Linked DNA regions of Homo sapiens. The protein of the gene in region 2 interacts with the protein of the main gene of each other region in a biochemical or structural test. Each region holds a gene or a part of one and is shown on either strand. Other genes may lie near its edges. The genes, in order: RAF1, BAG1, ESR1 and PPP1R15A.

What was found.
Region 1: the proteins of BAG1 (region 2) and RAF1 form a complex in vitro, tested with the Homo sapiens proteins (2 studies listed by BioGRID).
Region 3: the proteins of BAG1 (region 2) and ESR1 form a complex in vitro, tested with the Homo sapiens proteins (one study listed by BioGRID).
Region 4: the proteins of BAG1 (region 2) and PPP1R15A form a complex in vitro, tested with the Homo sapiens proteins (one study listed by BioGRID).

Annotation. Positions count from the first base shown.
Region 1 is NC_000003.12:12,584,095-12,591,119, forward strand, and holds part of RAF1 (RAF proto-oncogene serine/threonine-protein kinase), read right to left. Parts: intron 6,881-7,025; coding exon 6,704-6,880; intron 3,544-6,703; coding exon 3,497-3,543; intron 1,706-3,496; coding exon 1,587-1,705; intron 1,160-1,586; coding exon 1,028-1,159; intron 888-1,027; coding exon 753-887; intron 564-752; coding exon 420-563; 3' UTR 1-419. UniProt on the Homo sapiens protein: Serine/threonine-protein kinase that acts as a regulatory link between the membrane-associated Ras GTPases and the MAPK/ERK cascade, and this critical regulatory link functions as a switch determining cell fate decisions including proliferation, differentiation, apoptosis, survival and oncogenic transformation.
Region 2 is NC_000009.12:33,254,700-33,261,724, reverse strand, and holds part of BAG1 (BAG family molecular chaperone regulator 1), read left to right. Parts: intron 1-555; coding exon 556-638; intron 639-2,691; coding exon 2,692-2,805; intron 2,806-4,816; coding exon 4,817-4,924; intron 4,925-5,797; coding exon 5,798-5,860; intron 5,861-6,416; coding exon 6,417-6,506; 3' UTR 6,507-7,025. UniProt on the Homo sapiens protein: Co-chaperone for HSP70 and HSC70 chaperone proteins. Acts as a nucleotide-exchange factor (NEF) promoting the release of ADP from the HSP70 and HSC70 proteins thereby triggering client/substrate protein release.
Region 3 is NC_000006.12:151,810,664-151,817,688, reverse strand, and holds part of ESR1 (estrogen receptor), read right to left. Parts: intron 1-7,025.
Region 4 is NC_000019.10:48,868,382-48,875,429, forward strand, and holds the start of PPP1R15A (protein phosphatase 1 regulatory subunit 15A), read left to right. Parts: upstream 1-4,039; 5' UTR 4,040-4,270; intron 4,271-4,843; 5' UTR 4,844-4,852; coding exon 4,853-6,517; intron 6,518-7,048. UniProt on the Homo sapiens protein: Recruits the serine/threonine-protein phosphatase PPP1CA to prevents excessive phosphorylation of the translation initiation factor eIF-2A/EIF2S1, thereby reversing the shut-off of protein synthesis initiated by stress-inducible kinases and facilitating recovery of cells from stress.

The DNA.
Region 1 (7,025 bases), on a different chromosome or scaffold from region 2:
TGACATGCATTCCTCCAGAAGCTGATTTCCAAAATCCCATGTGTCTCCACATCAGGGCTGGACTGCCTGCTACCTTACTTCCTCTAAATACTCATGTAGCCAACAGCTGGGGCTGGGCCCCTGCTTTTTGTACTACCATCAACATCCACTTGCGCATCTACAGAAGGCTGGGCCTTGAGCATGGGGAATGTGGGGAGGGAGCAGGACACACCAGCACTGCAAATGGCTTCCTTCTCCCAGGGCCCAAAGGGATAGAAAAGAAGGCAACATGAAGTTAAGGCCCTGTGAGCAGTCTAGAAGGTCCTTAGCAGCAGCTTCTCTGAAAACATGTGTTCTGCCTCTGGAGAAAGGGAGCAGAAAAGTGGTGCCTGCTGGCTTCTCCTCCTCCCCTGGCAGCCTGAAGACAGGTGCAAAGTCAACTAGAAGACAGGCAGCCTCGGGGACGTGGTCAGCGTGCAAGCATTGATATCCTCAGTGTGGGCTGCCCGATGCAAGGATGGCTCGGAAGCGCTCCGGTTGATCTTCGGTAGAGAGTGTTGGAGCAGCTCAATGGAAGACAGGATCTGAAACAAAGCCCAAGAATGCTCTCATTAGCTGTGTCTCAAAGACACAGGATGTACCCTGCCCCCCACCATCTTGTAGAGGACCTGGGTCCCCTCCCTATAAAACAAAACAAAACACTCCCACCTTATATTGCCATCTTTACGAACCAACCCATGCTTTAATCACATTCTAGCAGCCCTGAGCCTTACCTGGGGAAAAAGAGGCCTCTCTTCCTTTACTTTCTTCACACAGTCAGCTACCAGCCTCTTCATTGCTTTGGGGCAGTTCTTATATAGCTTACTAAGATCTGGGGAGGCATATCCTCGGCCCACCATGAAGATGATCTAAGGGAAAGAAAACAGCTGAGCTAATGGGGGGTGAATGAACAACAGATAATAACAAGTCCTAACCCTCTAGCTGCTTAGGCTGGCGGAGGCCCAGGGGCTCCCACGAGTTGGGTCCTTTCGCACCAGCACAGACTTACCTGATCTCGGTTGTTGATGTGAGAATAAGGAAGCTCCCCCGTCATCAGTTCATACAATACGATGCCATAGGAGTAGACATCCGACTGGAAACTGAATGGGTTGTTATCCTGCATTCGGATCACCTCTGGGGCCTACATGTATCACCATATGACAAAAGTGCATTTATCACCATATGACAGGCCTCACAGACATCTAGGGGCCAGGCTGTCCCTTTCATTAGTTATGAATGAGTCCATTCTTCAGTCCCCACATAGCTTTTCCCCCAAAGGACTCCAACTCAGGCACTGGTTAAAACAGCTCAGGAATCCTTGTCTTTAAAGGACCAAGACCCAGCATTTCTGTCACCCAGCTTATTAACTCCTCTCCACACTAAGCTTCACAGTGGTTCTGATCAACAGCTTCCTCAAGAAAATCTACAATTGCCCTGAGGCTGGCTGTCACTAGGGGTCATGTGGATTTCGGGGAAATGTACAGAAACGCTTTAAGTTTGCACATAAATCTCCAAGGCATTCCTTTTGCCCTATACCAGAGACTGCTGGTGGGAGCCCAGATTCTCACCATCCAGAGGACAGAGCCAGTAGGTTGTTCAACCTGCTGAGAACCACTCCAGCGTGACTTTACTGTTGCCAAACCAAAATCTCCAATTTTCACTGTTAAGCCTTCATGGAGAAATATATCTCAATGCTTGTTAAGGACTCTGGTTTCAAAAGAATGGTCAGGTTAATTTTGAAAAATATCCCAAAGTTCTTTATAACACGGTAATCTCTCCACCTTACCTCTGTCACAGCCTCTCTGCACTGAACTTCCTAAGGTTTCTGAAGTTCTTTAAAGTGCTTTTGAAATGCACCTTCTTCCAGAAGACAGGCAGGGATTGGTCAATGTGCCAGATTATTTGGCCCTAGCCAAAAGCAAGCCAGCGTTTCTTCCCTGCTTCTTCTCCCCATTTGCACATCTAGGTGCTGGGTCTCTGGCCTTGTGACCTTTCCACATAATACAGGTACTTGAAACCCTAACAGGATGAGCAGAGGCCACACTCCAGTGCTCCCCAGAGGGCCAAGGATGGCCTGACAGCTTACAGTCGTTTCTGCCTGTATTCTGCCCTCAAATCACCATCTGAAACTTGAGTGGTTAACAAAATAGCAAATCCCTTACTGAGTGTTCAATGTTGTAGTAAGAAATTCCTCACTAGAATCGGTACCACTCAGTGACTTCAAAATGAGAACTGAAGTCGGCTCGCTTCTGGGTAAAGAAGTCATACAGTTTAAGTCAAACTTGTGAGGAAAAAAAAATTAAAAAAGAACAAAAAATTAAAAAACAAAACACACACAAAGTAACTTGTGATGTTGGTGCCCAGGAATTCACACCTCCTTAAATCTGTGGTGTCTGCTTTCATGGTATAATGTTTGGCTGCTAAAAACCCCACCACTGAAAGGTGTTCCACACCTCAGACATGTACCTAAAATAGGCCATGTCCCATAATCCAACACAACTATCATGCCTCTCACTGCTCAAGAGGCAAAACGTGGGTTGTAATGCCATCTTTCTTTCACAAGGAAAGGCTCGTGGAGGGTGGCAGATTCAAAATTGTTAAATTTCACGCCTCACAGCATTAAAAATACCTTTCTTCATTTACTCTTCTATAAAAACAACCCCTCTCCTCTTCTAATAGTGACTTCTGAAGAACCCACTTATGTACCTTTGAGAAAGACCATTTTATTTATTTATTTTTTTGAGACACAGCCTTGCTCTGTCCCCAAGGCTGGAGTGCAGTGGCGTGATCTCAGCTCACTGCAACCTCTGCCTCCCAGGTTCAAGCAATTCTCGTGCCTCAGCCTCCTGAGTAGCTGGGATTATAGGTACGTGCCACCACACTCAGCTAATTTTTAAATTTAGAGATGGGGTTTCACCACATTGGCCAGGCAAGTCTCAAACTCCTAGCCTCAAGTGATCCACCTGCCTCAGCCTCCCAAAGTGCTGGGATTATAGGTGTGAGCCATCACGCCCAGTCAAGAAAGACTATTTTAATTAGTGATTTTGGAAACCTTTCAACATTTGGCTTGTAGCTACTTGCTATCCACATAACAAGCAGATAGACATACACACGCTGGCCACAAACTAGAAATAAACTTAAGACAAAAGCCCAATCCCCGTCAGGTTACATTTACTAATAGTGTGATAAAATTATGCCTATTTCAAGCTTACGGAAATCTCTCCAAATCACTTTTGCTGAGATAAACTCAGAAAGGAACCTAACCTAAACATCGCTCTCATCAGTCCAGGTGAGGCATAAGCTGCTGAGGGACAGGCCAAGCCTACTAATTTTCTGACTTTTCTGTTTTCCTGTCCTCTGCCTCTTTCCTTAAAAAGATATCCCCTGGCACCGAGAGCCACTTGTGATAGAAAGCCTCCCTTCTGTTTCCCTAAATTTAGAACCGAGCAGTCAAATGAACTCAACAACCAAAGGATACTGTTGGATTTCATGTCTCTATGGATGATGTTCTTTGCATGCAAATAGCTGTGAAGGGAAAAGAAATTATTAAAAATAAGTTTGAGGGGCATGAGTAGAAAGCAGTTTTAAACTACAGCTAAGAAGTAAAGCCACTGAAGGCCTGGCTCCAAGGAGTGTTACACACAGGGATAGACCCTGTGCTGTTCAGCCTGGTTCACATCACTGCTTACCTGAAGGTGAGGCCACAGCACAAACATGCTTACACCTTTTTTTTTTTTTTTTTGGAGACTGGAGTGCAGTCAATAGCTTACTGCAGCCTTAACCTCCTGGGCTCAAGTGATCCTCCCACCTCCCAGTAGCCGGGACCACAGGCATGTGCCACCATGCCGCCTTTTTTTTTTTTTTTTTTTTTTTGGGTAGATACAGGGTCTTGCACTGTTGCCCAAGCTGGTCTTGACTCCTGGGCTCAAGTGATCCTCCCATGTTGGCCTCCAAAATGCTTGGATTACAGGCATGGGCCCCTGGCGCCTGACCATTGCTGACACTTCTTCAAGCATCAGTTTTACTCTAAAGTAATTCTGATAACCCAATGTCCATAAATGATGAATGAATAATGTGGCATATCCATACAATGGAATGTTACTCAGACACAGAAAGGAATGAAGTAGTGACTCATGCTACACATTAACCTTGAAAATACTATGCTAGGTCTAAGAGCCCAGGCACACAATACCATATCTTATGTATTATATACAGCCAAGCATCACTTAACGGCAGGGATACCTTCTGAGAAATGTGTTGTTAGCCAACTTGTCATCATGCACACATCATAAAGTGTATTCACACAAACCAAGAAGGTACAGCCTTCTACACACCCTGGCTAAATGGTATAACGTGTTGCACTTAGGCTACAAAACTGTATGGCCCTCAGTGTACTGAATACTGTAGCTGGTTGTAACATGGTGAGTATTTGTGTCTCTAAACATAGCCAAACATAGAAAAGGCACAGTAAAAATACAGTATTATAATCTTGTGGGACCACCTTCCTATATGTGGTCATTGACCGAAACATCATTATATGTTACCTGACTATATTATATCTTACATGATTCCATTTATATTGAACTATAAAGTAGGCAAAATCCATAGAAACAGAAAGTAGACTGCAAGTGGGTGGGAGGTATTGGGTAACCTCTAATGGGTATATTGTTTGGATATCTGTCCACTCCAAATCTCAAGTTGAAATGTGATCCCCAGTGTTGGAGGTGGGACCTAAGTGGCAGGTGTTTGGGTCATGGGGATGGATTCCTCACAAACGGCTCGGTGGCCTCCCTGCAGTAACGAGTGAGTTCACACACTATTAGCTCACATGAAACCTGGTTATTAAAGAGTCTGGGACCTCCCTCCATGCTCTCTCTCTTGCTCCTTTCTCTCACCACATCACACGTGGCTCCCCTTGCCTTCTGCCATGAGTGAAAGCTTCCTGAGGGCCTCACCAGACACAGATGCTGGTGTCATGCTTTTTGTACAGTCTGCAGAACCCCGAGTCAAATAAACCTCTTTTCTTTATAAATTACCCACCCTTAGGTCTTCCTTTAGAGCAACCCAAACAGACTAATACAATGGGCATGTGTTTCTTTCCGGGATAATGAAAATGTTCTAAAATTAGATAGTGGTGGTGGCTGCACAACTCAATACCAGAAAAACACTGAGGTAGGTGTACATTTTAAAAGGGGGAATTTTATGATGTATGAATTATATCTCAATTTTTCTGAAAAGTCATTCCATTTCTTAAAATACACAGAAGGCAACTTCCATATGAATTTTAAAGACAGTGTGAGAATTTATGTAGGACTTGCAAGCACAGCTATAGCTTAGTAACTCCCAGATGTCTAGGGGTACGAGGAGCTCCTCTACTTCAGAGGAGAAGTTTGAGAAGCACTACCCTAGGCTAGCCAGGAAAGGTGGGAGGATCACTTGAGTCCAGTTTGAGACCAGCCTGGGCAACATAGTGAGACCTCCGACTCTACAAAATACACGAAAATTAGCTGGGCACGGTAGCATGTGCCTGCAGTCCCAGCAACCTATGAGACTGAGCCAAGAGGATAGCTGGAGCCCAGGAGTTCAAGGATGCAGTGAGCTATGATTGCGCCGCTGCACTCTAGCATAGGTGACAGAGTGAGAACCTGTGTCTCTAAGGAAAAAAGTGTGGTTTTTTTGGGTTTTTTTTTTTTTTTCAGATGGAGTCTGGCTCTGTCACCCAGGCTAGAGTGCAATGGCACAATCTCCACTCACTGCAACCTCCGCCTCCCGGGTTGAAGTGATTCTTCTGCCTCAGCCTCCCGAGTAGCTGGGATTACAAGCGCCTGCCACCACAACCAGCTAATTTTTGTATTTTTAGTAGAGATGAGATTTCACCACATTGGCCAGGCTGGTTTCGAACTCCTGGCCTCGTCATCCACCCGCCTCAGCCTCCCAAAGTGCTGGGATTATGGGCATGAGCCACCGTGCCTGGCCAGGAAAAAGTTTTTAATTAAAAAAAAAAAATTATCCCAAAAACAACATCTGCTTAAACCCTCATGTGGGACAGCCATGCCTCAGACAGCTGAGCAGAAGGCATTGCCACAGCTGTCCAAGCAGAAGGTACATGCACCCCACTATATTCTCAGGTTTCTGATAAAGCCAGGGTAGCAGGCAGAGCCCAAAGCTGAGCCCCAAGGGGGAAGTTCAGTCCCAAGGAGGAACCTGAACTTCTCTTTTTTTTTTTTTGAGACAGAGTCTCGCTTCTGCAGCCAAGGTTGGAGTGCAGTAACGTGATCTAAGCTCCCCGCAACCTCTGCTTTCCAATGTTCAAGCGATTCTCCCTGTCCCAGTTCTTGAGTAGCTGGGATTATAGGCATGTGCCACCAGACTTGGTTCATTCTTGTATTTTCAGTAGAAACAGGGTTTTGCCATATTGGCAAGGCTGGTCTCAAAACTACTGGCCTCAAGTGATCCACTGGCCTTGGCCTCCCAAAGTGCTGGGATTACAGGTGTGAGCCACCCCACCCAGCTGGAACCTGAACAACTCATTCCTGATAATTGGCCCCTCCAGCCCAGGCCAGAGGCTTGTGCAAAGATATCACAGAATCGCTTAATGGACTAGAAGGCTTTTCCTGATCCTGGTTCCAATTTAGGGACAAATTTGATGCCTGGGTCCCAGAGAGGCATCAGACCATCTACTCACTCCATTCCCTGAGCCGTCTGCCGGGCAATGTCAATTAGCTGGAACATCTGAAACTTGGTCTCCTGGACATGCAGGTGTTTGTAGAGGCTGCTGCCCTCGCACCACTGGGTCACAATTGCCAGGTTGTCCTTTGTCATGTACCCCATGAAAAGCAGAATGTTCACATGCCGTGTTTTGCTGGGGAGGGGAGGGGAAGAGAGGAGAGGGAGGAGGAAAGTGCTCAGGGAGGTCTACTGTGCTTTCCCGTGGACAGTGGGTTCTGTGCTGTCGACACCACCCCCAGTCCCAACACCACCCCCAGTCCCAAAAACAAACACATGGC
Region 2 (7,025 bases):
AATAGGAGGCATTTTTATTTATATTTCATAGTGTAACATATTGTCTTTAATTTTTAAAAATATTTTATTTCTGAATTATAAAGACAATAGAAATTCATGTTTCAAAATAGAGGAATGCATGAAAAAGAAAATGTTCCCCTGGATAAAACCCCTCATAATAACACTGTGTCATCAGCATTCATTGTGGTATTGGGGTTTCCTGCAAAAAATGAGCTTTAATGGCTACTGTAGACCTTAATGCCTACTGAAGACTTTAAAGTCTTCTGTAGTGTGGTTCGTTGGTCCCTGATTCCTGAATATTTGGCTCTTTCCAGTTTCTCACTATTATGAAAAGGTTGCACTGAATATTATCGTATAGTAGTTACTGTGGAGTCGCATGTCCAATTATTTGTTTAGGATAAATATCTGGAAATGAAATTACTGGGTCATGACACCCTCTAAAAAGATACCAGTTCTCATTAGTGAACACACTTGTCTATTTCCTGTATCCTGCTGAAATTTATTTTCAGTGTTGTACAATTATTACAACTTGGCCTACCTTTCTCCTCTTTTTAGGAAAATCTCTGAAGGAAATGGAAACACCGTTGTCAGCACTTGGAATACAAGATGGTTGCCGGGTCATGTTAATTGGGAAAAAGGTAAATTGCTTTTTCCATCAGAAATCCTCAGAATCAAATGACTGAAGTCTTTTATACATGTTTCTGTTTAGAAGACCAAACTGGGGACCCAGATTCTGCATTGATAAAACACCTCTCTAAACAAATACAATCTTTATTGGTTTTACAGGATTACCAGTTTTGTTGTTCTCATACCCTCCTGCTCCTGTTGGTTAGAACTTTTGCTCTAGGAATTAGGAGCGGTTGTGCTGCCTTAATAATATGTTTTTTGTTTTGGTGGTGGAATCTTGGTCTGGTTAAAATGGTGCCTGGGACAGGTCTCATTCACTTGGAGTAGAATTTGCAAGAGTCTTTTGTTAAAATAAACTTGTAGATATTAAGAATAATCACTCTGTTCCAGTTCAGGAGCCTCTCTCCCTTTAACCAACCTTTTAACTAAAATCTCCCACAAGGGAAAACCTTCGACTGGAAAGGAAGGTTCAGACTAAAGAACTGAGGGGAAAAAAAGACAGATGAGGTCAGCAACCCTTAAGGTGATGAGAGAGGGCTGTGGCCAGCCCTGCATTGTGACACAGCAGAATTATGAGCATATGAAGTTCCCTTATTGTGAGTTAGGTGGCTGAGTAGAGAGAGGGCAGATAAACAAAGTGAAGGCAAAAAAAATCTAATCCAGACTTGGAACTGCCAGGAGACTGGAACTCAGGACTTGCCACAAAGAGAAGTGAATAATTTGGGATAGCATAACTAAGCAGAAAGCTGCTAGACCTATCTATCAATTGTTTACCTGAGAGAAGAGGGAAATATTCTAAATTTCTTGCTTCAGGGTCAGGGAGAATGGTGATGGGCAACAGGCAGAACCAAAGAGTCAAGTTTGAAGAAACTATAGGACTTTTACTTGGAGCTGACACAGAGCGTATGGAGCGAAGTGTGAACTCAAGGAAGGCACCATGGCACATGCCTATTGTCCCAGCAAGTTGGGAGTCTGAGACAGGAGGATCACTTGAGTCCAGGGGTTTGAGGCTGCAGTGAGTTATGATCATGCCTGTAAACAGCCACTGCACTCCAACCTGGGAACCGTAGTGAGACCCTATCTCAAAAAAGAAAAAAGTCTGAACTTAAGTCTAATCTACCTCTTTTGGACTGTGTGATCTCATGTTACTTTACTACATTAAGCCTCAGTTTCATCATCTGTAAAACAGCAGTACTTCCCTGATGGAGTTGTGGTAAGGCTTAAAAAATAGGTAAGGTGCTTAGGATAGTGTGTGGCATGTAGGAAGTGTTCAATAAAAGTATTCATCGTTGTTAACCAGCATCACATTAAACAGGAGCGCTCAATTGGAGGCTGCCATTTAGGAATTCCATTTAAAGGAATGGTAGAATTCCACCTTTCTTGCCATTCTGGACTCCTCACAAGTGTTTACTGAAATGTGATTACCCTCCAGGCTTCAGTCTTGGTTGTTGATCAGTATAGGGCTGAGACTGAATCTGGCACTTGGATTGTCTCCATTCTCTGCACCCAAGCTGTCAGGGCCCTCACCAGAATGTTTACCTAACACCTTCTCTCTAGTCTGGAGTCTTTGTAGATGGAAAACTTGATGTATAACCCTTTGACTTGATTTCCAAGAAGCAACAGAGTTAAAACTGTTATTTCTAGGTGAGTGGCTTCATGCAGGTGTGGTCAGGTATTTTTCCTGACAGAGGCTGCTGTTCTTGTTGATTGCTTTTTCTTTTTTCTTTTTTTTTTTTGAGACAGTCTCGCTCTGTCACCCTGGCTGGAGTACAGGTGCACGATCTCAGCTCACTACAAACCTCCACCTCCCAGGTTCAAGCTATACTCCTGCCTCAGCCTCCCGAGTAGCTAGGACTACAGGTGCACGCCAGCATGCCTGGCTAATTTTTTTGTTTTTTTAGTAGAGACAGTGTTTCACCATGTTGGCCAGGCTGGTCTTGAACTCCTGACCTCAAATGATCTGCCCATCTCGGCCTCCCAAAGTGCTGGGATTACAGGCATGAGCCACCATGCCCAGCCTGTTCTTTTTGACTATTGGCTTTATTTTCTTCTTAAACATTTTAGAACAGTCCACAGGAAGAGGTTGAACTAAAGAAGTTGAAACATTTGGAGAAGTCTGTGGAGAAGATAGCTGACCAGCTGGAAGAGTTGAATAAAGAGCTTACTGGAATCCAGCAGGTAACTCTCTTCATGGACCTTAACTTTCTGCCTTCTATCAGAGCTTCCTGGATATAACTTGTGGTTATGGGGACATGTTCTGCAGTCAGACTCCCTGGGTTCAGATCCTGGATTCACCCTTTCTCTTACTGTGAACAAGTTTATCTTTGTCTCAAGTTCCTCATCTGTAAAAATGGAATAATGGTGACATTTCCCTATTAGGATTGTTGGGAGAATTAAATAATGTAGATTGAGCTTGACACATACTAAGTGCTTTATAAGCATTTATTGTCATAGTTATTGTCAAACCCCAGCCAGCATCCATTTATGCTCACAGGAGAGCACCTGCCTTGCTAGGATCATGTATTGTCTGAAATAGAACAAGTAGCTTCTCTCTGGGCTGTTGTAATGTGTTTGGCAAGGCAAATAACATTTTGTTGGTTCATAGAAGGTCCAAGTTGAACATGATAGTGGGGTTGGGGGAGTCATCCTATTCAATTCCTTATATTAGAGATGGGGTACTAAAACCCAGTAAGGATTAGGACTAGCTCAAGACCACTTTTATTTATTTTTCCCTCTCATTTTATAGCATTAATTGGGGTGTGTTTGTGTTTTGGCTTTTTTTTTTTTTTTTTTTTTTTTGATATGGAGTCTCGCTCTGTCACCCAGGCTGGAGTGCAGTGGTGCAATCTCAGTGGCTCCCTGTAGCCTCTGCCTGCCAGGTTCAAGTGATTCTCCTGCCTCAGCCTCCCGAGTAGCTGGGATTACAGGTGCCGCCTGCCACCACATCTGTCTGATTTTTTTGTATTTTTAATAGAGATGGGGTTTCACCATGTTGGCCAGACTGGTCTCAAACTCCTGACCTCAAGTGATCTGCCCGCCTCGGCCTCCCAAAGTGCTGGGATTACAGGCATGAGCCACTGCGCCCGGCCTATATGTTTGTGTTTTAATTACAGAATACATGCTGACTGTACAAAAGTTTTAAGTACATGTATAGGCACTAATATGGAAAATAAAAATTACCCATGGGGCACCAACTCAGAGATGACGATTACCAAAGCCTGAAATATATTTTTCATCTTAAAAAAATTTGATATAATGTTATTTACACTTTATAAACTATTCTTTTATTGGATAAAAAATTAAACATTTTCCTGTGATGGTATTTTTCAAAGCTCGCATGCATTTCATCTTGTATAAATGTATTATTTACCTAGCCAACTCTGTATTGTTCATTTAATATTATTTTTACCATTATGTGTAATGCTTCTTTGACTGTCCTTGGACGTAAATCTTTTTTGACCATTCCTGGTTTTTTTGGTAGAATAAATTCTTTGAGTTGGAATTGCTGGGTGATGTTTAAAGCTCTTGCTACGTGTTGTGAAATCTGTGTCTGTAGCTCGTGGCTGTGATAAACATCCTCAGAGATCCCTGCTATCCAACTCTTGTCACCAGCTAACTGGTCATTAGGCCAAGCTGTGTGAGTGAACCATTAGACAATTTGATAAAAATAAGCACTGCTGCCATTCTTTAGCATGCGTCTGTGCCACAAGTTAGTGACACATGTACATATATTCCCTTTACCTCACAGTAACCATCTAGGGTGTGGGCATCATAATCTTCATTTTTAAAATGAGGGTACTGAGGCATGAATAGGCTAAATAATTTGCTCAAGATCACAAGTTAGTAAATGGCAGTCAGTTTTCAGGCGTAGGCTTTGAAGACTCTAAACCTGTGCTTTTAACATCTGCCTCTTCTTGTGACTGGGGGCTTCACTGGAGCCAAGCCTCAGGAGGCATTTGCAGCCACAGTGGGTCATGCGAGGTAGAGCAGACTGCAACCTGATAGAATTCTTGGACTGGCCCACGGCCAGCCTTTTTAATTTTTCCAAGAGTTAAAGTTGTGGATCTGAGATGTGGCCTGGCCTGCCAGGGCTATGGTGGGCTCAGTGTGATTGCATCATTAGTATTGTGGCATGGAGTCTTCCGTCAGCCTCAGAGAACCCTTGCAATAATGCATTATTTCCCCGCAGGGTTTTCTGCCCAAGGATTTGCAAGCTGAAGCTCTCTGCAAACTTGATAGGAGAGTAAAAGCCACAATAGAGCAGTTTATGAAGATCTTGGAGGAGATTGACACACTGGTAAGTAAATATTCAGCTGAGAAGAACTAGTTTTCTTTGACTTTATTTCAGTCACATTCACTCTTTCAGTAATTTACTCTCCTATTGCCTGAGCAAACCCATCACTTGAGAATATTAAGCATCTACTATTGTGTGCCAGTCATGTTGCTAGGTCCTGGGTGAATGCATGATGATAAGACAGTTCCTGCTTTCTAGGCACTCACAGCCCTCCAGCATAGGACTTTTATCATTTACACTTATGTTTGCCAGTAGCATCTGTAATCGTCATGAAGCTGGGACCCAAGGAGTCCACGATCTCATGGTCCAGGAAACAGAGGATTTAACTTTCTCTGATGAATATGTGACTGATAATTCTGCAGGGCTCATTACTTATAGATGATTCAGCCAGACCCAGGTCATGTGAGGCCATTGAAAATCATTAACTCTTTTGCAGATGATAGTAATGATATCTCTAGCCTGATGCTTCATTCTTGAAGGTGAACTGCACTGTGTACTTCTGTTGGCCAGGGTGGGTGTAAAGAAGCAGCAGCAGGCACTTTTCCTGTCACAATGAGCCCATGGTGTGGCCAGGGCAGAGTATCCATACATAGGAAACAATAAAAGAACAAAGTCTGTGTTAAAGATCAGTTCCTATGGCCCAGACATTGAGAACACAGGGAGCTTTTATAGGGACAAGAGCCATGGAAAGGCCATACAGGATACAGACCCAGGGAAAGGGTTCCTGAAAATGGATATCACATTTACATTGGTGACCTGTGACCTGTTTTGTGTACTGTGGGTGTTTCTTATGTGCTCTCATGTCATTTTCACTGAGGATTATTTGTTACATGTTTACTATTTACTAACTTGTATTATCAACTTACTCTTCCATAGATCCTGCCAGAAAATTTCAAAGACAGTAGATTGAAAAGGAAAGGCTTGGTAAAAAAGGTTCAGGTGAGTTGTGTAATAGTGCACGACAAGGTGTAATATGTTAATGTGTAGGTATGTGTGTTTATCTGTTCAAAATCAGGTAGTGTAGGAGCGTGGTGTGTGGTATGGGCTTGTTTTGGTTATATTTATCAGCAGGAACCCCAAACGTCAGAGAAGAGCCACCTGTGTCCCTGTAATTATATTTGAATTTAAACTATTTAGGGAGGGAACTCACTGGAGAGCAGGTAGGGCTGACACATTACACAATTCCAGGAGGCAGTATTCATGCACACAGTGCTTCCTGCGATTGTGCAGTTGCTGTGCAGTGGCCCTGAGGCAAAGCTCCCTGCCTTTACCACCTTTTAGGGGATTGCTGGCCTAGAGCATGGTCAGAATGCTGGTCCTATGCTCCCTCCCTCCCCTTACCTTGGAACCCAGGCCAGTGGCCCATCTCCATTCATGCACAATCTGTTTTGAGTCTCAGCCATGGGTTCCCCAGAATGGGTAAGCAAGGAGCCTTGTGTGGGCAGTGGTCGGCTACCCCTGGATGGGCCCTTACTGCCCCGTGTGTATTTTCTAGGCATTCCTAGCCGAGTGTGACACAGTGGAGCAGAACATCTGCCAGGAGACTGAGCGGCTGCAGTCTACAAACTTTGCCCTGGCCGAGTGAGGTGTAGCAGAAAAAGGCTGTGCTGCCCTGAAGAATGGCGCCACCAGCTCTGCCGTCTCTGGAGCGGAATTTACCTGATTTCTTCAGGGCTGCTGGGGGCAACTGGCCATTTGCCAATTTTCCTACTCTCACACTGGTTCTCAATGAAAAATAGTGTCTTTGTGATTTTGAGTAAAGCTCCTATCTGTTTTCTCCTTCTGTCTCTGTGGTTGTACTGTCCAGCAATCCACCTTTTCTGGAGAGGGCCACCTCTGCCCAAATTTTCCCAGCTGTTTGGACCTCTGGGTGCTTTCTTTGGGCTGGTGAGAGCTCTAATTTGCCTTGGGCCAGTTTCAGGTTTATAGGCCCCCTCAGTCTTCAGATACATGAGGGCTTCTTTGCTCTTGTGATCGTGTAGTCCCATAGCTGTAAAACCAGAATCACCAGGAGGTTGCACCTAGTCAGGAATATTGGGAATGGCCTAGAACAAGGTGTTTGGCACATAAGTAGACCACTTATCCCTCATTGTGACCTAATTCC
Region 3 (7,025 bases), on a different chromosome or scaffold from region 2:
TTATCTTCATATCTGGTATCAAAAATCTGCATCTTCATACCCTTCAATCTACCTTCTTTGTATTTATTCCATATCAAATGCAACGGCCAGTCTTGAAACTTATTTTGGAAAGCTGAGGAGTAGAATTGAAAGCTACTGTGATCTTTCTCCCCAGCACTCCTTTTACCCTCTGCTTCTGAAATCCAAGAGGCCCAAGGAAATGAAGACTTGGAAATCTAGCAGACCTGGGTTTGAATAGTGCTCCTCATGGTTAGAACAACAGCAAAACCTTGAGGCACATCACTAGTCTCACTTCCCTCCATGTCTCCATCCTGAAGACTTGGAAATATCCTCCATCTAAAGTCATAGGAAGAGTAAATGAGCTTTAACTGTAAATCAGTGAGAAAAGCCCCAAAATTTGTTTTGTTTGTTGTTTTTCTTAACTACTGATTCAAGCTTCGACCCAGAGCAATTGTCAGAACTGCTGAAATACAACCTGGATCTCAGTAGTTTTTTAATCATCTGGGTGATTCTGAAATAATCCTTGATTTGGATATTCCAACCAACGTGAAAAAGACGTCCTTGTAGATGCTCCCTAAGTATGAGCTTCCAACTCCTTCTTTCTCACAGTTCCCATTTTTCCAAATTACAGAAAAATTCCTTCCTTGCCCTCTGTACATCATAGCTTCTCCATAAGCTGCTTACCTCAGCTTCAATTAATTCCCTCTCTGGGATTGCTTCAGTCCACAATACTTAATGCCCCTCACTCTTTTTATTGATTGATTAATTTTTACTGATTTGGAGTGCCTTTGTTTTTGTTTTTGTTTTTTTGTAGAGACAGGGTCTCACTGTGTTGCCCAGGCTGGTCTGGAACTCCTGGACTCAAGCAATCCTCCCTTCAGTTCCTCAAAGTGCTGGGATGACAGGCATGAGCAGCTGCACGCAGCCAAATTTGAAGTTTTTTTTACAGTTGTTTTGTTTTGTTTTTGTAGCACAGTACCTGGCATGTAATAAGCACTTCAAGAAATACTAGCTTCCTGCTTCCTTTTGGTTGCAGAAGTTTAACTTCTAATCACAATAGGGTATTAAAGTTAGTCACTTGAAGGCAAAATAAACAAATATAGGGACATTCCAGACCCGTAGAGAATTCCCATACTCACCTTCTTCAGGGTATAGTACTCAATTCCCTTCCGAAGTAGTAATAAAAAATAATGACTTGTTATGTGCCAGGAATGTTATAAGCCCTAGACATCTATGAATTTGTTTAATCCTCACATCATCCAAACGATGTAGCTTTTACAGATTAGGAAACTGAGGCACACAGTTAAGCAATTTGCCAGTGATGACAACTACACAGGAGTCACGCCAGAATAGAAATATAGCTGCTGGCTCCCAGACCTGTGCTTTCATCACTCTATTATACAGAATCGATTCTCATTATTCATGGTACTCATGTTCTATAAAGTCACCTCAAACACTGAATTAGCAAATACTGAACCATTGCATTGAGGGGAAAATAGGGTAGGTTCCTGGGAGCCTTTGGTCACAGCATTTTTGCCAACTCATTAATACATAACCTTGTTTTATATGTTTTTCTGTTCAAAAACACTGTATTTAATATATCCTGTTGATTCACCATCATTGAACTCATGGCCAACAGCATTGTAACTCATGCCTGAATAAAGCTTATCAAACACGTATTTTCTCTTAAGACACGTCAGAGCCTTGTCTTAGAATCCCTAGACAGTACTTCAGGACCATGCTTAGGGGCCATTTTAAACAGCAAAATCATCAACAGGGATTATGAAAATGCAAAAATCATAACACGAAGTAGATAGCAAGAGGGACACTTGTTTATAGTCTGAGGGCTGCAAGGAGAAGTGAGCCTTGCTCAGCCTCAGCTGGGAACATATACGTCATATAACTCAAATTTTTTTGCCATTCCACACGTCTGCAAAGGACTGAGAAAGCACCGTGAGTGTTGACTCGAAGGTTACAAATAAACGTCAGTAAGTCAGCGAATTTGCAAATACAGAATCCATGAATAATGAGGGCCGACTGTACTTGGAATGCTGTGTGGAGTCCTTTTTCTACTTTTGTTCCTGAGAAAGAGAGATTCACAAACTTCCCACATTCTTCCAGTGGCATCTAAGGATCCCTTCCTAAATGGCCTTTCTCCCAGCCAATAGACTGAAGCAAACCATGTCCCTGATGCTTCCTGCCCACCACCATCCATTCTTTCAACCAACAGCTTCTCCGGGCTTTCACGTGCCATGCACTTTGCTAAGAGCTTGAGGGAAATACAGCAATGAAGAAGAGATGATTTCTGTTTGGACCAGTGCTCAGGGATTCCTCCTATTAGAAATCAAAGAGGCTTCCAAAAGCCCTACAATTTTTTCCCTGTAACTAAAGAAAATAGCTTCTCAATGTAACTAAATTTTATCTCATACGCAAATTGGAATGTATACCCTTTCACTCTGAATTGCTTGAAATATTCCAGGAGAAATAAATACAACTCTGTGTAAGGTCTTCTAAAAAAGCAGAAGTCAAAGTCACCAGAAAGAACCTTTAAAATCAACTATGTTTCTGACAATGTTGCTTTCGAAACTGTTACCCCACTCCCGCAAAATCACCATTGAAAAATACCTTTGTGGTGTAATTAAGATTAATCATGAATGCACTGAATGTTCAGAAATGAGTGTTTTTGTTTTTGTTGATTAAGTGGGAAGTTACAGTTAGCAAAAATGCCTTGTACACGTTCACATGGATCTAAAACTCCTGAAACCAAGTTTACTGGGAGACAACAGTCAAGACTACACTGTTAGTTTACACATGCAGGAGATTCTGGTATTAGAATCTCACCTATTCATGCTATAAGACTTCCCAGCTGCTAGGTGCAATGCTGTTGCATGAACTGCTGGGAAAACAAAACCACACTTTATATAGTCTAAGCCCTCAATGAATGACTCAATTTGGAATAAGGTAGCCAAATGAATGAATGAACAAACTTTCAAAGAAATTCTACTAATTGAAAATTTCTTCTTTATTTTGTTGAAGTTTCTATCCTCAGAGACAAGAAAAACATCACTTTTTGAAACTTTTAATCTAGTTAATACCACTCTGAGTTATTACGGTATATTCTTATACTGGCTGAGGTAGGAACTCTGTTTAGCCCTGTTCCAAATTTCATTAAAATAACAGATGAGACAGGTCAATAAAGAAATAAACCAGAAAAGGTGAAAGAAAAATATCTGAGAATACACAGATGGAACAACTAAAACAGAAAAGAAAAAAGAAAGCTTAATAGGGTAAAAGAGGCCAAAAACTCTTTAAAGGGAGTTTAAACTTCTATGTATTAGAAAATAAAGCAAATGAAACAAGAAAATATGAGAATGGACTCAAAATTCTAAAAGACCTACAGAAGAAAGAGGAAGTACGCCAATGTGAAGATGACTATTTCTAACATCATTTAATTGCAGGAAACTAAAAGAGAACATTGTCTTTTGCTTTCAGGGCCATAAAAGAAATCCCAAGCCGCCCAACAAGTCAAGGAGCCAAGAAAACTGCCCAGGAAGTAGTGCCAGGTAAGCACAAGTTGGCTGCTGGGGCCCCTAACTTGCCACCGTTTAGGAACAGGCAGAATGAGCCCGGGACCGAAGGATGGAAGACAGAACTGGAACCAAGGAGCGTGGACCTTAGGGCCCGGCCAGTTCTACGGCTTCTGAGAAGGAGATGAGAATCTGAATAACAAAACTGCAGAGGTCTTCCATTCCTCCTGGGGTTGACAACATTTGGGGAACTCTCAAAAAGAACCCACCTGAGCTTTTCAAGGGCTCATTTGGAAATGTCTAGTTCTGAACATTACTTAATGGATTTTATTAACTTTAAGTGAACTTTTATAATTTTCCCAAGTGTAACTCATAGGATCTCCAAAAAATAGAACATTACCAAACAAAGAAGTCTACTATCTTATTAAAGATGGCACATTTATTTAAAGTAGATATTATAAGAACAAACTAATTTGTCCCTCTAAATAGTTCAGAGGAGAGACAAAAAATTTTCAGTCTTGCTTGGAATTTTGGGTTCTTTTAAATTTTTTGTATAGCAATTATAGGTACTTAATAAGTTTCTAATATTATTGGTAATATCATTATTAAAATTTTCAGACTATGGAATTAGAATTCTAAAACAATGAGCCAAGTAGATTTAAAGGATTGGATTTCTGTATAGGATGAACATCTCCAGGGTCCATAGGAGGCATCCAGAAATACCACCTACCCAAACTGAGACAAAAACTTCATTTTCATCATCATCGTCATCATCAAAATCATGGATCATTACCACCACCACATCACTTACAAGCGGGTTGTAAGAAAGTCATACTCTTTCTTATTTGCCCACGTTTCTTGAAATTATTACTTTATTAAACTACATAAAATTGTGTCAGTTGAGACCAGAATAGTTGTCATTCTGTGCTTCCTATATTTTTTGAGGTGATCTAAAAATATACACATAATTTAAAACATTGTTGATTACTGCAAAACTTTCTTCAGAGTCCCTCCTGATATTATCCAAGGCAGAGAATTCAGCAATTATGGTTTCTTCCCTCATGAGATTAAGGATATTATAAAGGTGCTTCCCGTAACCTCCAGCCCACTTAAATTCTGGGATTTCAGAGATCAGTATGAGTATATTTTAGAGACGAAGTAGCGAACAGCTCAGACATACTTTTTTTTTTTTTGTAAGTGACATTACACGTCAATTCACTGGCGGAGTTTAAAATATAAAACCCCTCAATAACTTTGGTGAACTGCCTCCTTTCCATGAAGTCCCTTACACTTTCGCTTTGGCTGGTTTCAAGTGGCTGTATTTTTTGGATTAATAGAGCATCTTTCTCTGGAGTATGCATATGGTTCTAAACAAGTGTAGCCACTCTGTTTTCCTTTCTTTAGATAAGCAAACTGAGACAGAATTAAACCAAAAGACTAATTTGCTCCTCTCCATTCAAAGTTGTCTGGAAAAGAAAGAAACACACTTAGCACGCTGCTCTCTCTACTGGGTTCTTCTAAAGTTACATTAAAAATAATAATGAAGTCACAGGGAGGGGTTAAGATGTATTAATTTCATGCTGAGTACGGATTTTAGAAAAATATAATTAAAATTCATATATTTCCTTATGTAAAATTGTTTACACATAATCAGGGTTTTGACTTTCTTTAATGTATCTGTAAAATAAATGTTCTTTATGATAACCTGGTAAGCCAGGCTGCAGACAAATGTTGCAGATGGTGATAAAGATTTTACTTAAATTTGACTTTCACAGGAAAAGATTTCATATAATCATCATTCTATATTTATAACAAAATTCCTGACCACTTAAATCTGTTATTTCCCAGCTTTTTAGCCTATGAAAGCACCAAAACAAATATTAACATGTGAGTAAAATAATAAAAACACCTAATGTTTGTTTAGTTTCTATACCACTTTCACATATACAATCTCACTTAACAAAGTTACTATTGTCTCATCATTCATTAATGGTAAGTCTGGCATCTTTTCTAGTTTTTCCTGATATCTATGGTTCCTCCCCTTGGCAGTTTCTTACACCTGTCTTACATATCCTTAAAACTATAAGAAACTAAAAGAAATCCCAAGCCGCCAAAATTCTCAAACCTGAGAATTTTCCCAAATTATGAATGTCATAGACTAAGTATAATCACAAAAGTAAATAACAACTTTAGCCAGGGATCCAAATTAAATGAGTGTGAGAAAGATTAGAATAAGTGGCAATTATCCTTCAGGAGCTTTCTTCCAAACAGGTACAAGCCACATGGAGGAGGTGAAAATGAAATGGGGATTGAAGATGTGATTCCGTTTTCATCCGAAAATATGCTCATTCACCAGGGAATATGTGACTCTGGACTATTCTTAGACCAGCACAAAGTGTCACGTAATCAGTAACAATTTAAATTAATAAAAAAGTAAGATCAGAAAGGAAGGGGGCTGAAATGTTATCTAAGTAAAAGGAAAAATGTATCGGAAACTTGAAACTTAGTCACTTAAATCTCACTTTGGAAATCAGTCTCTATTCAAAGTTGAGAAAGAGTTTCAAATGATCACCAGTGGAAAAATTAGTTGTCCAAAATATGCAGATGGCCAGGATACAAATTAGCAGGGCATTGATTTTGATGCAAAAGATTTATACATTTGCCAAGTTTTTTGGAGAAGTGAGAGACGTCTAACTTTTAAGAATACTGAGTAATAAAACTGAAATAAGCATGCAGCATTAAATTCCTAATTAGAACTTTAAAAAGGATAGTTGATATAGTTAAGCTTCATCTTTAGTTTTATTCAAAGTTCCTAAGTTGTTTGAAATCTAAAAAAGGAACCCAGGATAAGATGACTCCCTGTTTCCTTCATTGTGAAATTTTGAGTAACATCTTGCAAAATCTCAGCTTGCCAAGTAACAAATTTATATTAATAACAATTTGCTGGGACATGTGACAATCTTTCTCACATTATTATGCGTCCAGAGAAATTTTATCTATTACATTTCTTCACACATAGATGTGGCTGCATATTATGGAAGAAATGGAAGAAGGTAACCACAGCATCTCAATGCTAAATGACGTGACCTTCACATAAATTCTCTGAACATCCAGTGGGACACTCGGGAGGACAGTCCACATGACAGCACCATTCTACAATAGAAAAGTTAAGAATCAGATAGTAAAACTTAGCCTAAATGACTAAAGACACCAACCTAATTTATAAGGGGAAAATGAAGACAATCAAAATAGCCTTTTGATTTGTATAGGTAAAAACAACCAGCCACTTGCCTGAATTTTTTGTTTTCTACTGAACATATAATATTTTAGGCCATTAGCTTTCTAATTTTTTCTTTGAATTCAATCCACAGTAAGAAATACATTTTACATCACAATCAGCACACAGAAGCACATATAATTAAAACAGATTTTCAGGAAACAAAACTTATCCTTACGAAATACCATGCACTCTGATATTTTCTATTATATTCCTTTCCA
Region 4 (7,048 bases), on a different chromosome or scaffold from region 2:
TCTGTTTCTGTCCAAATCTTTTATTGTCAGACTCACAGGGTCTCTTCCTTAAGTCTCTGTCTCATTCTCTCTCTCTCTCTCTCTCTGTCTCTCAGTCATCCCCTGTGTCCTCTCTCCTTCACACTCAGTCTCTTCCTCTTTCTCTCTGGCTCTGCCGTTTCCTCCCTTTTCTCTTTCCGATTTCCCTTCTCACTTTCTCCCTTCCTCCCTCTCCCAGTTTCTCTTTCCTCTCTGCTGGTCTTTCCCTGCCTCTGCCAGCCGCCCACGCTGCTGTTCTCCCCTCCCAATCCCGGCTGTCCCCGCCCCTTCTGGCCTCCCCACTACAGCCTGACCTCTGGCTCAGCTGCCCCCATAGCTGAAGGGAGGGGCTTGGGCCCCCCAATTCCCAGGTCCCCTAAGGACCAAGGTTGGGACTTCTCAGTGTTTGGAGAGTTGGACTTGAGGCCTGCACTCCAGGGCCCCCGTGGGTTTGCTGCTGTGGTTGGGGGCCTGAGCCACTGGTGTCCTAAACGGAGGAGGCTTGTGTCCTGCAAGGGGTGGGGACTCAAATTTCCAAAGCCCTGGAGGGAATGGGTTAGGGATCCAGACTCCTGGGTGCCCGAGAAGGTCTGAGCTAGGATCAGGACTCCTGAGTCGTGAAAGAGCTGGGGGTCTGGAAACATGGCTGTGCTTGGAAGGGGCCAGGGACGGTTTGTCCAGGTCCCCTAGGGAGAAAAGGGGATGGTCCCAGTAGGGCAGGGTGAAATGGAGAGTTCCAAACCTCCACCTCAGATCCAGGTGAGAATTCTCTTCTAGACTGAGGACAACTCCCTCAGGAGAGAGACATGATTCCTTGGTATATTTTGAGGAACAAGATTATGCATCCGTAGGCAGGGGAGGAGAGCGGGGGGCTGGAACTGTCACCCAGGGCCTGGAACTTGTAGCAGAAGCGCCCCCACCCGCACAAAGAGTGCCACCCAGGCAGAATCGCGGCTTGTGGGGGCAGAGCTACTGCCTAAGTCTGAAGCAGATGACACCCAGGAGTGGAGCCTTGTGCCTGTGACCGGGAAGGAATCTGAGCTTTCGGTTTAACTGCCATTCACCATGCACCTGTTGAGCACCTACTGTGTGCAGGCACTGTCTGTTGCAGCCACTGAGAAGAAAGCAGTGAGCCCTGGCTGGGTGCAATGGCTCACGCCTGTAATCCCAGCACTTTGGGAGGCCAAGGCAGGAGGATCGCTTGAGACCAGGAGTTCAACACCAGCCTGGGCATCATAGCGAGACCTTGTCTCTATTTAGAAAATGAATTTCTTTTTTTTTTTTTTTTGAGGCGGTGTTTTGCTCTGTCGCCAGGCTGGAGTGCAGTGGCGTGATCTCGGCTCACTGCAACCTCCGCCTCCCGGGTTCAAGCGATTCTCCTGACTCAGCCTCCTGAGTAGCTGGAACTACAGGCACATGCCACTGCACCCGGCCTAAATTAATTATTATTATTATTTTTTTGAGACGGAGTCTCGCTCTGTCGCCCAGGCTGGAGTACAGTGGCACGATCTCAGCTCACTGCAAGCTCTGCCTCCCAGGTTCACGCCATTCTCCTGCCTCAGCCTCCCGAGTAGCTGGGACTACAGGTGCCCACCACCACGCCCGGCTAATTTATTTTGTATTTTTAGTGGAGGCGGGGTTTCACCGTGTTAGCCAGGATGGTCTTGATCTCCTGACCTCATGATCCACCTGCCTCAGCGTCCCAAAGTGCTAGGATTACAGGCGTGAGCCACCGCGCTCAGCCTAATTACTTTTTTTTGAAAAGCATTGAGCCCAGCAAAGTGCCTGATCTCATAGTGCTTACATCCTCATTCTCATTTGCAAGGAATCTGGACCCTGCTGTGACTATCTTGGTCAAGTGGCTTCATTTCCAAGCCTGTTTCCCCATCTGTGAAATGGGAACAATGACACCCTCGCACTCGGGGAGGAAACCAACCACATGTGAAAATAGGAGACTCTAGCCAGGCGTGGTGGCAAGCTCCTGTACTCCCAACTACTCAGGAGGCTGAGGCAGGAGAATTGCTTGAACCCGGGAGGCGGAGGTTGCAGTGAGCCAAGATCATGCCATTGCACTCCAGCCTGGGTGACAGAGTGAGACACCGTCTCAAAAAAAAAAAAAAAAAAAGAAAGAAAAAGAAAAAAGAAAGAAAAGAAAAAAAAAAGAAAATGGGAGACTCTAGGCTGGGGCCTGTGGGCTAAATTGGGGTAGGAGGCCAGGCACAGTGGATCACAACTGTAATTCCAGCACTTTGGGAAGCCAAGGCGGGCAGATCACCTGAGGTCAGGAGTTCAAGACCAGCCTGGTCGGCCGGGTGCGGTGGCTCACACCTGTAATCCCAGCACTTTGGGAGGCCGAGGCGGGTGGATCACAAGGTCAGGAGATCGAGACCATCCTGGTTAACACGGTGAAAAACCCCGTCTCTACTAAGAATACAAAAAAAATTAGCCGGGCGTGGTGGTGGGCACCTGTAGTCCCAGCTACTAGGGAGGCTGAGGCAGGAGAATGGCGAGAACCAGGGAGGAGGAGCTTGCAGTGAGCCAAGATCGTGCCACTGCACTCCAGCCTGGGCGACAGAGCAAGACTCCGTCTCAAAAAAAAAAAAAAAAAAAAAGACCTGCCTGGTCAACATGGCGAAACACTGTCTCTACTAAAAATACAAAAATTACCCAGGCATTGTGGCACATGCCTGTAATCCCAGCTACTCCAGAGGCTCAGGCAGGAGAATCGCTGGAACCCAGGAGGTGGAGGTTGCAGTGAACCGAGATGGCGCCACTGAACTCCAGCCTGGGCGACAGAGTGAGACGCCTACTCAAAAAATAAATAGGCTGGGTGCAGTAGCTCACGCCTATAATCCTAACACTTTGGGAAGCCGAGGCAGGCAGACTGCCTGAGCTCAGGAGTTCGAGAACAGCCTGGGCAACATGGCGAAACACTGTCTCTACTAAAAATACAAAAAATTAGCTGAGTGTGGTAGTGCGTGCCTGTAATCCCAGCTACTCGGAGGCTGAAGAGGGAGAATCGCTTGAACCCGGAAGATGGAGGTTGCAGTGAGCCGAGATCACGCCATTGCACTCCAGCCTCGGTGACAGAGCGAGACTCCATCTCAAAAAAAAATAAAAAAATAAAAAATAACAAATAAATAAATAGGCCTGGAGTGGTGGCTCACGCCTGCAATCCCAGCACTTTGGGAGGCCAAGGCAGGCAGAACACCTGAGGTCAGGAGTTCGAGACCAGCCTAGCAAACATGGTGAAATCCCGTCTCAGAAAAATAAATAATGAATAAATAAATAAATAAATAGGCCGGGCGCGGTGACTCACGCCTGTAATCCCAGCACTTTGGGAGGCCAAGGCGGGAGGATCCCCTGACGTCGGGAGTTCCAGACCAGCCTGACCAACATGGAGAAACTACGTCTCTACTAAACAAATACAAAATTAGCCGGGCGTGGCGGCACATGCCTGCAATCCCAGCACTTTGGGAGGCCAAGGCGGGAGGATCCCCTGACGTCGGGAGTTCCAGACCAGCCTGACCAACATGGAGAAACTACGTCTCTACTAAACAAATACAAAATTAGCCGGGCGTGGCGGCACATGCCTGCAATCCCAGATACTCGGGATGCTGAGGCAGGAGAATCGCTTGAACCCCGAAGGCGGAGGTTGCGGTGAGCCGAGATCGCCCCTTTGCATTCCAGCCTGAGCAACAAGAGCAAAACTCCGCCTCAAAATAACTAACTAAATAAATAAATAAATTGGGGTGGGAAGGCATTGACCCTGAGCTGAGAGAGAACTGGCTCGCTGTTGAAGCAGGGCCACGCATTTGATTGACAGTTCGTTTGTTGGAGGGGCGTGGTCACGCTCGGAAACTCCGCCGTGACGTTGCAAAAGCTGGAATCTCCGCGAGAAGTCCTGTCTTACTTCCACTTCCCACCCTTCGGGTTGCGGTCTCGAAACCCCGCCTCTCTTCGTGACGTCAGCACGCCGGGCGCGGTAGGCTATAAAAGCCTAGTGGCCATTGTGTTCGTTGCTCTTATCGGTTCCCATCCCAGTTGTTGATCTTATGCAAGACGCTGCACGACCCCGCGCCCGCTTGTCGCCACGGCACTTGAGGCAGCCGGAGATACTCTGAGTTACTCGGAGCCCGACGCCTGAGGGTGAGATGAACGCGCTGGCCTCCCTAACCGTCCGGACCTGTGATCGCTTCTGGCAGACCGAACCGGCGCTCCTGCCCCCGGGGTGACGCGCAGCTCCCAGCCGGTGAGTAAGGGGTCGGAACGCCTGGGTCCCCACGGGGCTGGGGGCCCGGATTTAGAAAGGAGAAGGGGTTGGGAGCCTGGAGTCCTGAGCCTGAGGGAGGAGGGATCTGGAAGCCAGATTCTTGGGTCCCCCGTGAAGGAATCATCTGCCAAGTAGGGGGTCGGGTCAGAATGTTTCAGTCTGCGAGGGAGGAGGGTGTGAGGGTTTGATTTGTCAATCTTCAGCAGAATGAGAGAGCTAGGGACTATGACTTTGTCGCCAAGGGAAGCAAGTAAAGACTTTTGTTCTTGGTTCTTGGGACTGGGAGTTCTGCGTCTGAAGAAAGAGAGGGCTGGGGGCTTGGACCCTTGGATCTAAGGCAGAACTAGGGGCTCAGACTCCTGGCTATTGAGAGATAAGAACAGAGCCAAGGGACAGAGATGGGCGTGGCCGAGATCAGAAAGGAATTTGGGACTCTCGCGTTGCTATTTACAATAGTTGTGTTACTATTTCCGTTGCTATGACTCATAGTCACGCCCGGATGCCATCCTCTAAATGGCCCCTAAACTTTATTTTTTTCTCCCCCTTTTCCAGCCCAGACACATGGCCCCAGGCCAAGCACCCCATCAGGCTACCCCGTGGAGGGATGCCCACCCTTTCTTCCTCCTGTCCCCAGTGATGGGCCTCCTCAGCCGCGCCTGGAGCCGCCTGAGGGGCCTGGGACCTCTAGAGCCCTGGCTGGTGGAAGCAGTAAAAGGAGCAGCTCTGGTAGAAGCTGGCCTGGAGGGAGAAGCTAGGACTCCTCTGGCAATCCCCCATACCCCTTGGGGCAGACGCCCTGAAGAGGAGGCTGAAGACAGTGGAGGCCCTGGAGAGGACAGAGAAACACTGGGGCTGAAAACCAGCAGTTCCCTTCCTGAAGCCTGGGGACTTTTGGATGATGATGATGGCATGTATGGTGAGCGAGAGGCAACCAGTGTCCCTAGAGGGCAGGGAAGTCAATTTGCAGATGGCCAGCGTGCTCCCCTGTCTCCCAGCCTTCTGATAAGGACACTGCAAGGTTCTGATAAGAACCCAGGGGAGGAGAAAGCCGAGGAAGAGGGAGTTGCTGAAGAGGAGGGAGTTAACAAGTTCTCTTATCCACCATCACACCGGGAGTGTTGTCCAGCCGTGGAGGAGGAGGACGATGAAGAAGCTGTAAAGAAAGAAGCTCACAGAACCTCTACTTCTGCCTTGTCTCCAGGATCCAAGCCCAGCACTTGGGTGTCTTGCCCAGGGGAGGAAGAGAATCAAGCCACGGAGGATAAAAGAACAGAAAGAAGTAAAGGAGCCAGGAAGACCTCCGTGTCCCCCCGATCTTCAGGCTCCGACCCCAGGTCCTGGGAGTATCGTTCAGGAGAGGCGTCCGAGGAGAAGGAGGAAAAGGCACACAAAGAAACTGGGAAAGGAGAAGCTGCCCCAGGGCCGCAATCCTCAGCCCCAGCCCAGAGGCCCCAGCTCAAGTCCTGGTGGTGCCAACCCAGTGATGAAGAGGAGGGTGAGGTCAAGGCTTTGGGGGCAGCTGAGAAGGATGGAGAAGCTGAGTGTCCTCCCTGCATCCCCCCACCAAGTGCCTTCCTGAAGGCCTGGGTGTATTGGCCAGGAGAGGACACAGAGGAAGAGGAAGATGAGGAAGAAGATGAGGACAGTGACTCTGGATCAGATGAGGAAGAGGGAGAAGCTGAGGCTTCCTCTTCCACTCCTGCTACAGGTGTCTTCTTGAAGTCCTGGGTCTATCAGCCAGGAGAGGACACAGAGGAGGAGGAAGATGAGGACAGTGATACAGGATCAGCCGAGGATGAAAGAGAAGCTGAGACTTCTGCTTCCACACCCCCTGCAAGTGCTTTCTTGAAGGCCTGGGTGTATCGGCCAGGAGAGGACACGGAGGAGGAGGAAGATGAGGATGTGGATAGTGAGGATAAGGAAGATGATTCAGAAGCAGCCTTGGGAGAAGCTGAGTCAGACCCACATCCCTCCCACCCGGACCAGAGGGCCCACTTCAGGGGCTGGGGATATCGACCTGGAAAAGAGACAGAGGAAGAGGAAGCTGCTGAGGACTGGGGAGAAGCTGAGCCCTGCCCCTTCCGAGTGGCCATCTATGTACCTGGAGAGAAGCCACCGCCTCCCTGGGCTCCTCCTAGGCTGCCCCTCCGACTGCAAAGGCGGCTCAAGCGCCCAGAAACCCCTACTCATGATCCGGACCCTGAGACTCCCCTAAAGGCCAGAAAGGTAGGTGCTGAGAGCCCAGATTCTATTTTTTTTTTTTTTTTAATTGAGTTGGAGTCTTGGGCTGTCACCCAGGCTGGAGTGCAGCGGCATGATCTTGGCTCACTGCCAACCTCTGCCGCCCAAGTTCAGGCGATTCTCGTGCCTCAGCCTCCAGAGTATCTGGGATTACAGGCGCATGACACCACACCCAGCTAATTTTTTTTGTATTTTTAGTAGAGACGGGGGTTTTGCCATGTTGGCCAGGCTGGTCTCAAACTCCTGACATCACGTGATCCACCCATCTCAGCCTCCCAAAGTGCTGGGATTACAGGCGTGAGCTACCACATCTGGCTGAGAGCCCAGATTCTTGAGTCTTAGAAAGAAAGGGGGCTGGGGGCCGAGACTTCTGGGTCCCTGTATGTTGCAGAGGGTTGCATGTCATCTCCATGGAGAAGGCTGTGTACGCTGTCACGCAATCCCTTGTAAGAGGCCAGGCCCCTGGGGGAGGAGGGAGCAGCTGTGGCTCACAGCAGCCCCAGGAAACCACCTCTT